2 separate regions of the Homo sapiens genome follow, and region 2 is linked to region 1. The links come from fine-mapping of genetic effects on gene expression. Tissue or cell type: tibial artery. Region 1 holds a variant in brackets; the other region holds the start of a gene. All regions are shown on one strand. Distances are between the middles of the regions. Region 1 overlaps CARMAL (coronary artery disease region linked MFGE8 regulatory lncRNA). Region 2 holds the start of CARMAL (coronary artery disease region linked MFGE8 regulatory lncRNA).

What was found.
Region 2: CARMAL starts here. The variant in region 1 is fine-mapped to the expression of CARMAL in tibial artery (GTEx, PIP 0.92).

Annotation. Positions count from the first base shown.
Region 1 is chr15:89,073,093-89,078,468 of GRCh38, forward strand. It overlaps CARMAL (coronary artery disease region linked MFGE8 regulatory lncRNA), which reads left to right. Exons shown (of 4, transcript NR_183882.1): 3 at 2,204-2,292. It also overlaps a transcript of ABHD2 not described here. Among named protein-coding and RNA genes, the nearest start is that of ABHD2, 13 kb to the right of the region's middle. The variant C/T (reference allele first, on the strand shown) is at 2,236.
Region 2 is chr15:89,038,360-89,043,735 of GRCh38, forward strand. CARMAL (coronary artery disease region linked MFGE8 regulatory lncRNA) reads left to right here and starts at 2,639. Exons shown (of 4, transcript NR_183882.1): 1 at 2,639-2,941. It also overlaps a transcript of ABHD2 not described here.

The DNA of each region.
Region 1 (5,376 bases):
TAAATCTAGCAAGCCTAGTTGTGAGGAAAGCACTTTTTGAGGGGCCTGGGACAAAGAATATACTCAGAAAATTCCCACTTCTACAGAGAGCAGCATTGTGGAGCAATGCTAAACTTAATCTATCATCAGATTTATGGGGAGCTTTAAAAAAGGGACCTAGGTGTGAGCTCAGACCTGATTAGCTAGAAACTTGTGTGGAATATCTGGGGAATCTGTAGTTTTTGAGACAGTCTTGCTCTGTTGCCCAGGCTGGAGTGCAGTGGTACGATCTTGGCTCACTGCAACTTCCGCCTCCTAGGTTCAAGCGATTCTCCTGCCTCAGCCTCCCAAGTAGCTAGGATTACAGGTGCCCACGACCATGCCTGGTAATTTTTTTGTATTTTTAGTAGAGACAGAATGTCACAATGTTGGCCAGGCTGGTCTCGAACTCCTGACCTCAGGTGATCCACCCTCCTCGGCCTCCCAAAGTGCTGGGATTACAGGGAATCTGTAGTTTTCTTTTAAAAAGTGTGTTAATTCTGATCATTGGCCAGGTTTGGAAACTAGTGGCCTCACGCACTACTTCTCAAACTCTAACCATGCGAAGCATCTCGGGATCTTGCCAAACACAAATTCTGATTCAGCAGGTCTTGGGGGACCTGAGGTTCTGCATTTCTAATATCATGATATCGATCCTACACATCTGTGGATCACACTGAGTAGCAAGATTTCAGAGCGGTGGGTCTCAAACTTGAACCACCTGGAGGGCTTATTAAACCGCATTGCTGGCCCCACCCCAGCGTTTTTTACTTAGTAGATTAGAACTACTCTTTTTGTTAGAAAAGCTCCCAGGTGTTTCCGATGCTGCTGCTGTGGGACCCACACTCAGAATCACAGTGCTAGGAGAAAGAGAAAGGGCTTTGGGATTGGCGGACCTGAATTAAATTCCATCCCAGCAAGCGGGTCACCTCTGACAGATTTCTTACATTGGTTCTCCACTCTGTACATAAGAGTCACCTGGGCCGGGCATGGTGGCTCACGCCTGTAATCCCAGCACTTTGGGAGGCCGAGGTAGGTGGATCACCTAAGGTCAAGAGTTCAAGACCAGCCTGACCAACATGGGGAAACCCAGTCTCTACTAAAAATACACAAAAATTATCAGGGCGTGATGGCGTGCTCCTGTAATCCCAGCTACTCCGGAGGCTGAGGCAGAAGAATGGCTTGAACCCGGGCGGTGGAGGTTGCAGTGAGCAGAGATCATGACACTGCATCCAGCCTGGGGGGCAAGAGCGAAACTCCATCTGAAAAAAAAAAAAAGAGTCACCTGAAGATCTTAAACAATTCTGATGCCAGTGTTCTTTCCCAGATCAAATTAAATCAGGAAAGCTGGGAGTGAGACCCAGATGCACTGTTTTAACAAATTCCTCAGGGGATTCTAATGTGTCACCAGGTGGAAAACCACTGAAACACTGAGCCATTCTCCTTATCTGAAAATGAAGACTGAGGATTAAGTGTAATGGAAATGAAAGAGTCTGGCATAAGGCAGGCACCCGAAGTGGCTGCTATGACTCCTCCACTTTCTAGCCTTCCCTTCCATCTTAGAGGAAGAGCTGCCCCCAGGCCTGTATGAGGTTCACCTGTCTCCAACCCCTCCCCAACAAAGAAAAGAACCTAGCTTGCTTTGTCATTTTCTTCTGGAACATTGCCTCTCACCAGCGTCTCAAGTCTACTTCCACTAGCTCTTCCCTATCTGTCTTTTAAAATATGCTGAACTCCGCCATCACTCAATCTTGCTGTCATCCTGTTTCCTGCCTCATATCACTGATAACATTTCTCAAGCAAGTGGCCTACAGCGGTACCAATTCCTGGCTTCTCCTTAACCCTCAGGAGAAAAAGCCTCATTCCCTTCACCCCCAACCCTAAACTTTAGTACAGAGACACCCAAAGTTTATCAAAAGTGTTTGAATGGCCAAACCCAGAGGCCTTTTCTCGGTAATTCTTCTCTTTCAATTCAATTGAACAAGCGTGTTTTAGTGCCTACTATCACTTGGGTACAAAGAGGAATAAGTCACCCTCCTTGGCCTCAAGGGGTAGGGCTTGGGAGCAGCTATCATGTAAGTAAGGCAATACCTGAGATAGGAACTGTGAGGTAAAGTGTGAATGATGTGGGTTCTGGCCCCCAGCACTCAGCCTTATCATAGGTCTTTGCATCTACATCTATTAGGAATGGATGATTGAATGGATGAATGAACTCCA[C/T]AGGAAGATGAGGAAAGCCTTTATGGATGGAGTGAGCTTGCAGCAGAGTCTCAAAGGGTGAGTAGAGTTTTCCAGGTAGGGAAGTGTGTGGGTGAGTAGTCCAGATCGAGTCAAAGGTATGGGAGCAAGGAACGGCCTGGTGCATTCCAGAAGTGTTGATAATGTCACTGGCTGACTCGGAGGGTGTGAAGGGGAGGAGAAGGAGGGAAGGCTAGAGAGGGAAGGTAGAAAGGAAGTGGAGGCGAAAAAAGATGCTGAAGGGCCTCCTGTACCTCCAGGAAGAGTTTGAATGTTATCATTTGGGCAATGGGAAGCTATTCCTGGGTCTTCACAAGGGAATCAGTTGGTGAGAACTGCTGTTTAGAAAGACAGCCCTGGCAGCAACTCAAGCGCTGGGAGAGGACAGAACCACCAGGGAAGAGGGTATGGGGAAGAAGAGCAGCAGGCTGAGGACAGGCCCAGGACTGAAGAATCAGGCACAGGAAGAAGAGTCCATGGGGCAGGCTGTGAAATGGACAAAGGAAAACCAGAGGTGCTTCCCAAGCAGGGGGCCTGGCCACCAGAGTCCCAAGCTACCAAGATGTCAAGTAAAGAAGAACTGAAAGCCAACTGCTGGATGCAGCAGTGAGTGGGGGTCACAGTGGCCTTTGCCAGAACTGTTCCAGTGGAGGAGTAGAGGAAGAGAGAAAACCACAGGAGCAGGCATCGCAAGCTCATGCTCCACCCACACGTCCCCTTTCTCCTTTAGTCCTGTGACCCATGTGCTTGCTCTCTTTCTCTCTCAAAGGAGATCCAAATTTAAAAATATGGAGCCAAGGGAATCAGTTCCTTTGCGAACACACTGAACGTTAGTTTTCTTCTTCTCTTTTGCAAAAACTTCTTATTTCACAAAATACTCAAACAAATAGACAAAGTACAGTGAAGTCCAGGTAGATATCATCCACCTTCAGCAATGATCAATCCATGGCCAATCTTTCATCTCAACACTCGTATCCTCATTCTTGTGGAGCAAATGCCAGACATTCTTTCATCCATCAGTATGTCAATATGTATCTCTGAAATAGAAGGACTTTTTATAAAACATAATCATAATATAATTAATATTCATTCCCCAATTGTTTTGTTATTGTCTTTTACAGTTTAATTTTTGTTTTGTTTTGTTTCGTTTCTTTTTGAGACAGGATCTTGCTCTGTTACCCAGGCTGGAGTGCAGTGGTGCGATCATGACCCATTGCAGCCTCTACCTCCTGGGCTCAGGTGATCTTCCCACCTCAGCCTCCCAAGTAGCTGGGACTACAGGTGCATGCCACCATGTCCAGCTACTTTTTTGTATTTTTGTAGAGATGAGGTCTCACCATGTTGCCCAGGCCAGTCTCAAACTCCTGGGCTCAAGTGATCCACTTGCCCCAGCCTTCCAAAGTGCTAGGATTACAGGCATGATCCATAATACCCAGCTACGGTTTGTTTTCATTTGGATGCTAATAAGACCCATACATTCCATTTGGTTGATCTATCTCTTCAATTTCTTTTAAATTTATAATTTTATAAGGTCCCCTTCCACATTTTTCTTTGTGGAAGAGGAGAAAAGACCCTTGTTCTCTGGATCACTCTGTGGTTAAGGGGGTAGGTCCTCAAATCAGATGCCCTGGTTCTATTTTGCTTTCTTGTTTTTTAGTACTTTTTGTTTGTTACCTACACACAGAAAAGTACATGAATCATAAGTGAGCAGCTTGATGAATTTTCATAAGTGAACACACCTGTGTAACCACCACCCAGCTCAGGAACAGGGCATCACTGGCACCCAAGAACCCCCTCTCAGGCCCTTTCCCAGTCTCTACCACCTCACAAAGGTCAGGTGACTTTTTCACACCACAGCCATGTGTTACCTCTTTTTGAACTTTATATAAATAAAATCATAGCATACATTTCTTGGATGACTGGCTTCTTTCACTCACCTTTATGCTGGTGGCATGCTTATCGTAATGATTTGTTCATTCCCAATGCTGCATAGTATTCCATTGAATATGAATGTTCTACAATCTGTTTATCCATTCTAGTGTTGATGGACATTTGGACAGTTTACAATCTTAAGCTATTACGAATGGTGCTATTGTGAATGTTATTGTCCGTGTGTTTCTTTGGGTACATACTTAAGAATGAGAATTATGCATGCTCATGTTGCCAAGGTTTTAATTTTGGGTTTACTTAATATCACTTTTGTGACCTCAAGCACATTATTTTACCTCTCTGGCCTCAGTTTCTTAATCTGTAAAACAGGCATAATCATATTCACCCTGTGGAGTTATTGGGAGGATTAAATATTTAAAAAAATCTAAAACTCTTAGAATCGTGCTTGTCTCTTAGTAAGGGTTTTATAAATGTTAGCTGTCAACCCTTCCTCCCTTTGTGGTGGTAACTTCTCAAGCTCCTTCACTGTTTTTCTCCTCCTGCCAAGTTTCATTCTCCCAAGTTCAAGTTAACCTGGTCTGCTTTTCTTTCTCTCTGAAACTTGTCTATGCCTATGACTTCCATTATCTTGTACTGTGGACAGCTTTTGCAACGTGTTACCTAGAAACTATGACTCCAAATCCCCTTGTCTACAAAACTCAGCCTCTCCCCTGCTTACCAATGCTCCCTTTCTAGTAATGATGTCATATTTTCCCTTTCCCTTGAATATATGTGTCACCAAAATCTCAACAGATCTAAAGTAAATTTACCTTTCTCTCCCATATTAGAACCACCTTGGGATCATCTCTGACCCTTCTCTCTTTCTTGCACCCCATATTTAATCTGTGGGGAAGTCCTGAAGAATCTATGCTCACATCACTGTTATTCTTTTCTTTTTACTTCCACTGTCTAGTTCAGGCCCTTAACAACTTACATTGAAACTAATGCAATAACCTGTTATCTCTTCTACCTGGCTCCAACCTCTCCTATTTCTAATTTTCTCTGAACATTGCCTCCAGATTAATTGGACTAAAATATGGCTTCATAATAAATCATCATGATAGGGCATATAACTGTGAAAAGAAAATAAAGCCTTGGGACCCCAAACTCACTATGTCAAAGGGAAAAATTAAGCTTGGAAACTGAGTCACACAAAAACTGCCTTCCTTTTGCTCCTAAACAGATCGTTGCATT
Region 2 (5,376 bases), 35 kb before region 1:
TGTCATCGGAAAGAAAAAAGTCTGCTTGATTGTCACAGGGACCGTTCACTTAACACGTATTTCTCGAGTGTGTGAGCATCTAGTCAATGCTGCTAGATGCCAGAGAGGCAAAGATGACTGCACTTGGTCCTAGCCCCTTGGAGCACCTTGTCTGGCACTGGCCCCACTGCTGCAGCCCTGGCTGAGGTCAGCAGGCTGCTCTCCCTCAAGTCAGTGGCCACCAGAGCCTTACCTGCCAGCCCTGTCTGCCACCATGGCTGCTGGGCCTCCCTCAAGCTTATTTTTGATGTCTATATTGTGGGTCAAATTATAAGAGGCTTTAAAAGGATGAGTGTAAATGGAGGTGTCTGTCCCCTAATGGGTGCCCAGAGGAATTTTTCCATGTCAGGTAAGGATACCTTTTTTTCTGAGGCAGGGTCTCACTCTGTCTCCCAGGCTGGAGTGCAAAGGGCGATCACAGCTCACTGCAGCCTCGACCTCCCAGGCTCAAGCAATCCTCCCACCTTTGCTTCCTGAGTAGCTGGGACTACAGGTGCTTGCCATCACAGCCAGCTAATTTTTTTTTTTTTTTTTTGTATGTTTTTGTAGAGATGGGATTTCACCATGTTGCCCAGGCTGGTCTTAAACTCAGCTCAAGCTATCTGGCCCCCTCTGCCTCCCAAAGTGCTGGGATTACAGGCGTGAGCCACTGCGCCTGCCCACCCGCCCCCCACCCCCCGACTTCTTTCTTTTTAAACATTTTTGTAAACTTCTCTCTTTTTAAACATGCACACTCACTCCACCCAAGCCTCTGAAGACAGAATTCTTGACCCTATTGCACTTACGATCTAATAGAAGAGACACAGATATAATATATTATGGTTTGATATGTTCACTGCTAGAAGTTTATGCCAAGTGCTGCTAGAACATAAATAATGGAGCAGTTCATCTTTCCTGGGGATAGGAGCCAGAGCCACAGTGAGCGCTGTTGACTGGGGTCTTAAAATTAAGCTGCATATGCCAAGCAGGGAAAGCGGGAAAGAGCATTGCCAGCAAAGGGAGCAGTATGATCAAAATTCCAAAGCAGTGCGTGCCAAAGGGCGTGTCATGAGCTGGAAAAGGTATGGTAGCACTGGTCAAGATTGCAATTTCAGTGTTCTTTTTTTTTTTTTAATTGAGACAGAGTCTCACTCTGTCACCCAGGCTGGAGTGCAGTGGCGCGATCTCAGCTCGCTGCAACTTCCACCTCCTGGGTTCAAGCAGTTTTCCTGCCTCAGCCTCCGGAGTAGCTGGGATTACAGGCACCCGCCACCACACCCAGCTGATTTTTGTATTTTTAGTAGAGACGGGGTTTCACCGTGTTGGCCAGGCTGGTCTCGAACTCCTGACCTCAAGTGATCCTCTCATCTTGGCCTCCAAAAGTGCTGGGATTACAGGCATGAGTCATGGCACCCGGCCAGTTTCAGGGTTTGTTTGAAATGATCACTTAATGAGTAACTGTCTCCCCTACTAGACTGTAAACTCTATGAGGGCCGGGGCTGGGTCTGTGTTCAACCACACTATGCCCCAGTGCTGAGCATGTCATGGCATTCAAATAAATATCCGTTGGATGGATGAATGGATGGAAGAAAGGAGGGATGAAATTTTTTAATTAAGAGATGTGTGCCAATTTTGGCAAATTTGTCAAAAATTTTGAAGAAAGTTTTTCTCAGTGAATATGAATATATTCCACTTGTGAATCTATTCACAGACTATGGGCTTGCTGGAACCTAAGAGTCATCGAGTAGTTTAGACTTCTTATCAATAGATTTTTATTTATATTCATAAGAGTATATTCTTGAATATATTTACTAATGCATTCATTAACAGTATATATTCGTATTCATTGAAAACATTAAAGAAAAAATTCTTTAGAATGGACAAATCAGAATATTTCACTTTTTTTTTTTTTTTTTTTTTGAGGCAGAGTCTGGCTCTGTTGCCGGGCTGGAGTGCAGTGGCACGATCTTGGCTCACTACAACCTCTGCCTCCTGGATTCAAGCGATTCTCCTGCCTCAGCCTCCCAAGAAGCTGGGACTACAGGTGCGTGCCACCACACCCAGATAATTTTTGTATTTTTAGGAGAGGCGGGGTTTCACCATGTTGGTCAGGGTGGTCTTGATCTCTTGACCTTGTGATCCGCCCGCCTTGGCCTCCCAAAGTGTTGGGATTACAGGCGTGAGACACAGTGCCCAGCCTAGAATATTTCATAAATGTAGCAAATTGGCTTTAGGGAACTTTTTCTGCTTCCAGCATTCAGCAGCTATTTGAAGGGTTTTGGAAGCAAAGGAATGGAGGGAGACAGGACGGCACCCTGAGGGAGACGCAGGGCTGAACGGAGCTGTTCGGGGATAGCTGTGGCTTGAGTGGGTCTGTTGGCTGAAAGGAGGGATTCGTTGAAGAAGGAGCAATGGACGAGGTGAGAGAGAGGATACTGGATGGAACCAGGTTTCAGAGGAGGCTGATGGGAGAATGTGAGGAGCACCAAAGCGAGCCTTAGGAAAAAGAAGTTCAGACAGACAGACACTTCGGTAAACCACAGCTCCCAGTATTCACCACTGTGTGTAGTCTCCTCCCACACTGACTCTGGGCTTGGTCAGCTGACAAGCTTTGGCCAATAGGGCTCTAGCAAGAAGATGCCAGCAGAGGCTTGAAAAGTGCCTACCCCTGGCCTGGGATGCTTCCTCCTGGGATGCTCCCACTTGGAACCCAACTATTGTGCTGCAGAAGTTTAACTTAACTGTGTAAGGAGGCCAAGAGGAGGCCCTGGCTGCCAGCCAGCATCAACTTCCAGTGACGTGAGTGTGCCATTCTGGAACTGGATCCTGCAGCCTCGGTGGAGCAGCCTCAGCTGATGCCATGTGGAACAGAGATGAACTGCCGCTGCCGAGCTCTGCCCACGTTGCAGAATCATGAGCAAATGTGAGTTTTGTGGTTTTAAGCCACGAAGTTTAGAGGTGGTTTGCAATAGAATGGAGGGGACTGCTTTTCTTCTGAGTTTCGGATTGAATTCTGCTTTACTATAACTTATTTATTATATATTTGTAACAATTCTGTCTCCACCCATCAGTATTCACCCGCCTAAGGGCACAGAGGCACCAGGACTCTGGGAACCTTCCTTGATGTCTGGATCTACTGCAGTGACTCTTAGTGCAGCAGTTAAAAGCCAGACTGTCCTAGTGTGAATCCGGCCTTGGCTATTCATTGGCTGGAAGACCTGAGCCAAGCCTGTGCCTCTGTCCGGGCATCTGGGTAGATGTCCTAGGAGTCCACTAAGAAGAAAACTGAGGCCAGTGAGAGGCAGAGTTGAGGCAAGGCGCAACTCTATTCCCCTGCTGGGGAAAGCAGCTCTGCCCCTCGGTCTGCCCTGCTGACCAGGCATGACACACCACCTCATCAGCAGGGCCCACGGCACCCAGACCTGGCCTGGAGGGGCTGAGACAGCATTGCTAGGGGTCAGATGGTCACAGAATAAGCAACCTGAGACCTGGAAGGGCATAAGCATCTTCCCCTACCTGGAATCAGAGGCATAGCTGAGGTCAAACATCAGGGCAGGAGGGCCTGGAGGGGGTCGGAACCAGAGGTCACCCGGGTGTTTGGTTGGGAGGGGCGTCCATCTTTATCTTATCCATCACCATCACCATTATTGCTAAACATACAGTGAGCATTACTATGTGCCGAGCACTCATCTAAGCCCTTTATACTTCTAAACTTCTAAACTTATCCTCATAGCCACTTTTGGACACCAGTACATTATTGTCTCCACATCATAGCTGAGGACTCAAGGGACAGAGGGGTTTTGTAACCTGCTGAAGAACATGCAGCAGCTGCATAGCATAGCCAGGATTTGAACCCTGGCAGCCTGGATCCAGAGCCTGCTTAGGACCACTCAGTGACACTATTGAGGATTTCAGCCACCTTCTCCATAACACTATAGTCTTGCTTTTACCCTACTCCCTCAAACATCTTTTTACCAGGTCAACATTAGCTTAAAAACTGAGACACTTTTCTTATTGAAGCACATGCTCCAAGTACACCCTCTCTGCTCCCCAATTAGACCATCATTCCTGCCTTCCCTCCGTCTTATCTCTTCTAAATCCTTACACCGAGTGCCACCTCCTCCATGAAGATTTCCTGTCCTGGTTACTTCCCACCTGGAAATTTATACCTTCTCTCTTTCTTTTTTATTTCCTTTTCTTTCTTTCTTTCTTATTTATTTATTTATTTATTTATTTATTTATTTATTTATTTATTTTGGAGACTTTTTGTTTTTTCTTTTCTTTTTCGAGACAGAGTCTTGCTCTGTCGCCCAGACTGGAGTACAGTGGGGTGATCTTGGCTCACTCTAGCCTCTGCCTCCCGGGTTCAAGTGACTCTCATGCCTCAGCCTCCCAAGTAGCTGGGACTACAGGTGTGTGCCACAAAGCCTGGCTAATTTTTTTTTTCTTTTTTTCTTTTTTTGCATTTTTAGTAGAGGTAAGGTTTCACTGTGTTGGCCAGGCTGGCCTCAAGCTCCTGGCCTCAAGTGATCCACCCGCCTCAACTTCCCAAAGTGCTGGTATTACAGGCATAAGCCACGGCGCCCGGCCTATACCTTCTTTCTTAATTTGCCCAGCACCATTTGTTTCCTCCACTAGTACATATTCCACGGCTTGCCGTAATCTGCTTTGATGCCTATGCTGACCACTGGGATGAGCCCCAGGGGCCCTCCCTTCACCATTCTGACAAATGTTCTTCCCAAAACCATGGGAGTAGCTAGGAAAAGGTAACCAACAGGGCTGTGGAGAAGACAGACAGAAGTAAGACATACAGTCCCTCAGAAGGTGGCAGCCAACCCTGCCTGAGCTCTTCTAGCACCCTAGGGGGGCAAGTTTGCTTTCAGCAGAAGAGCTGGGGTTTGGGCTGGGCATGGTGGCTCATGCCTGTAGTCCCAGCTACTGAGGAGGCTGAGGTGGGAGGATTACTTTAGCCCAGGAATTCAAGGTTAGGGTGAGCTATCTTTGTGCCACTGCACTTCAGCCTGGGCAACAGATCAAGACCCTATCTCTTTTTTAAAGAAGAAGAAGAAGGAGGAGGAGGAGAAGGAGAAGGAGAAGGAGAGGAAGAAGGGGGAGGGGGAGGAAAAGAAAGAGGAAGGAGGAAGAGGAGGGAGGAGGGGAAGGGAAAGAGGAAGGAGGAGGAGAGGAAGAGGAAGAAAAGAAGAAGAGGAAGAAGGAGGAGGAGAGGAGGAGGAGACGAGGAGGCGGAAGGAGGAGGAGGAGGAGGAAGGAGAAGGAGGAGGAGGAGAGGGAGGAGGAGAAGGAGGAGGGGGAGGAGGAGGAGAGGAGGAGGAAGAGGAGGGAGAAGGAGGAGGGGGA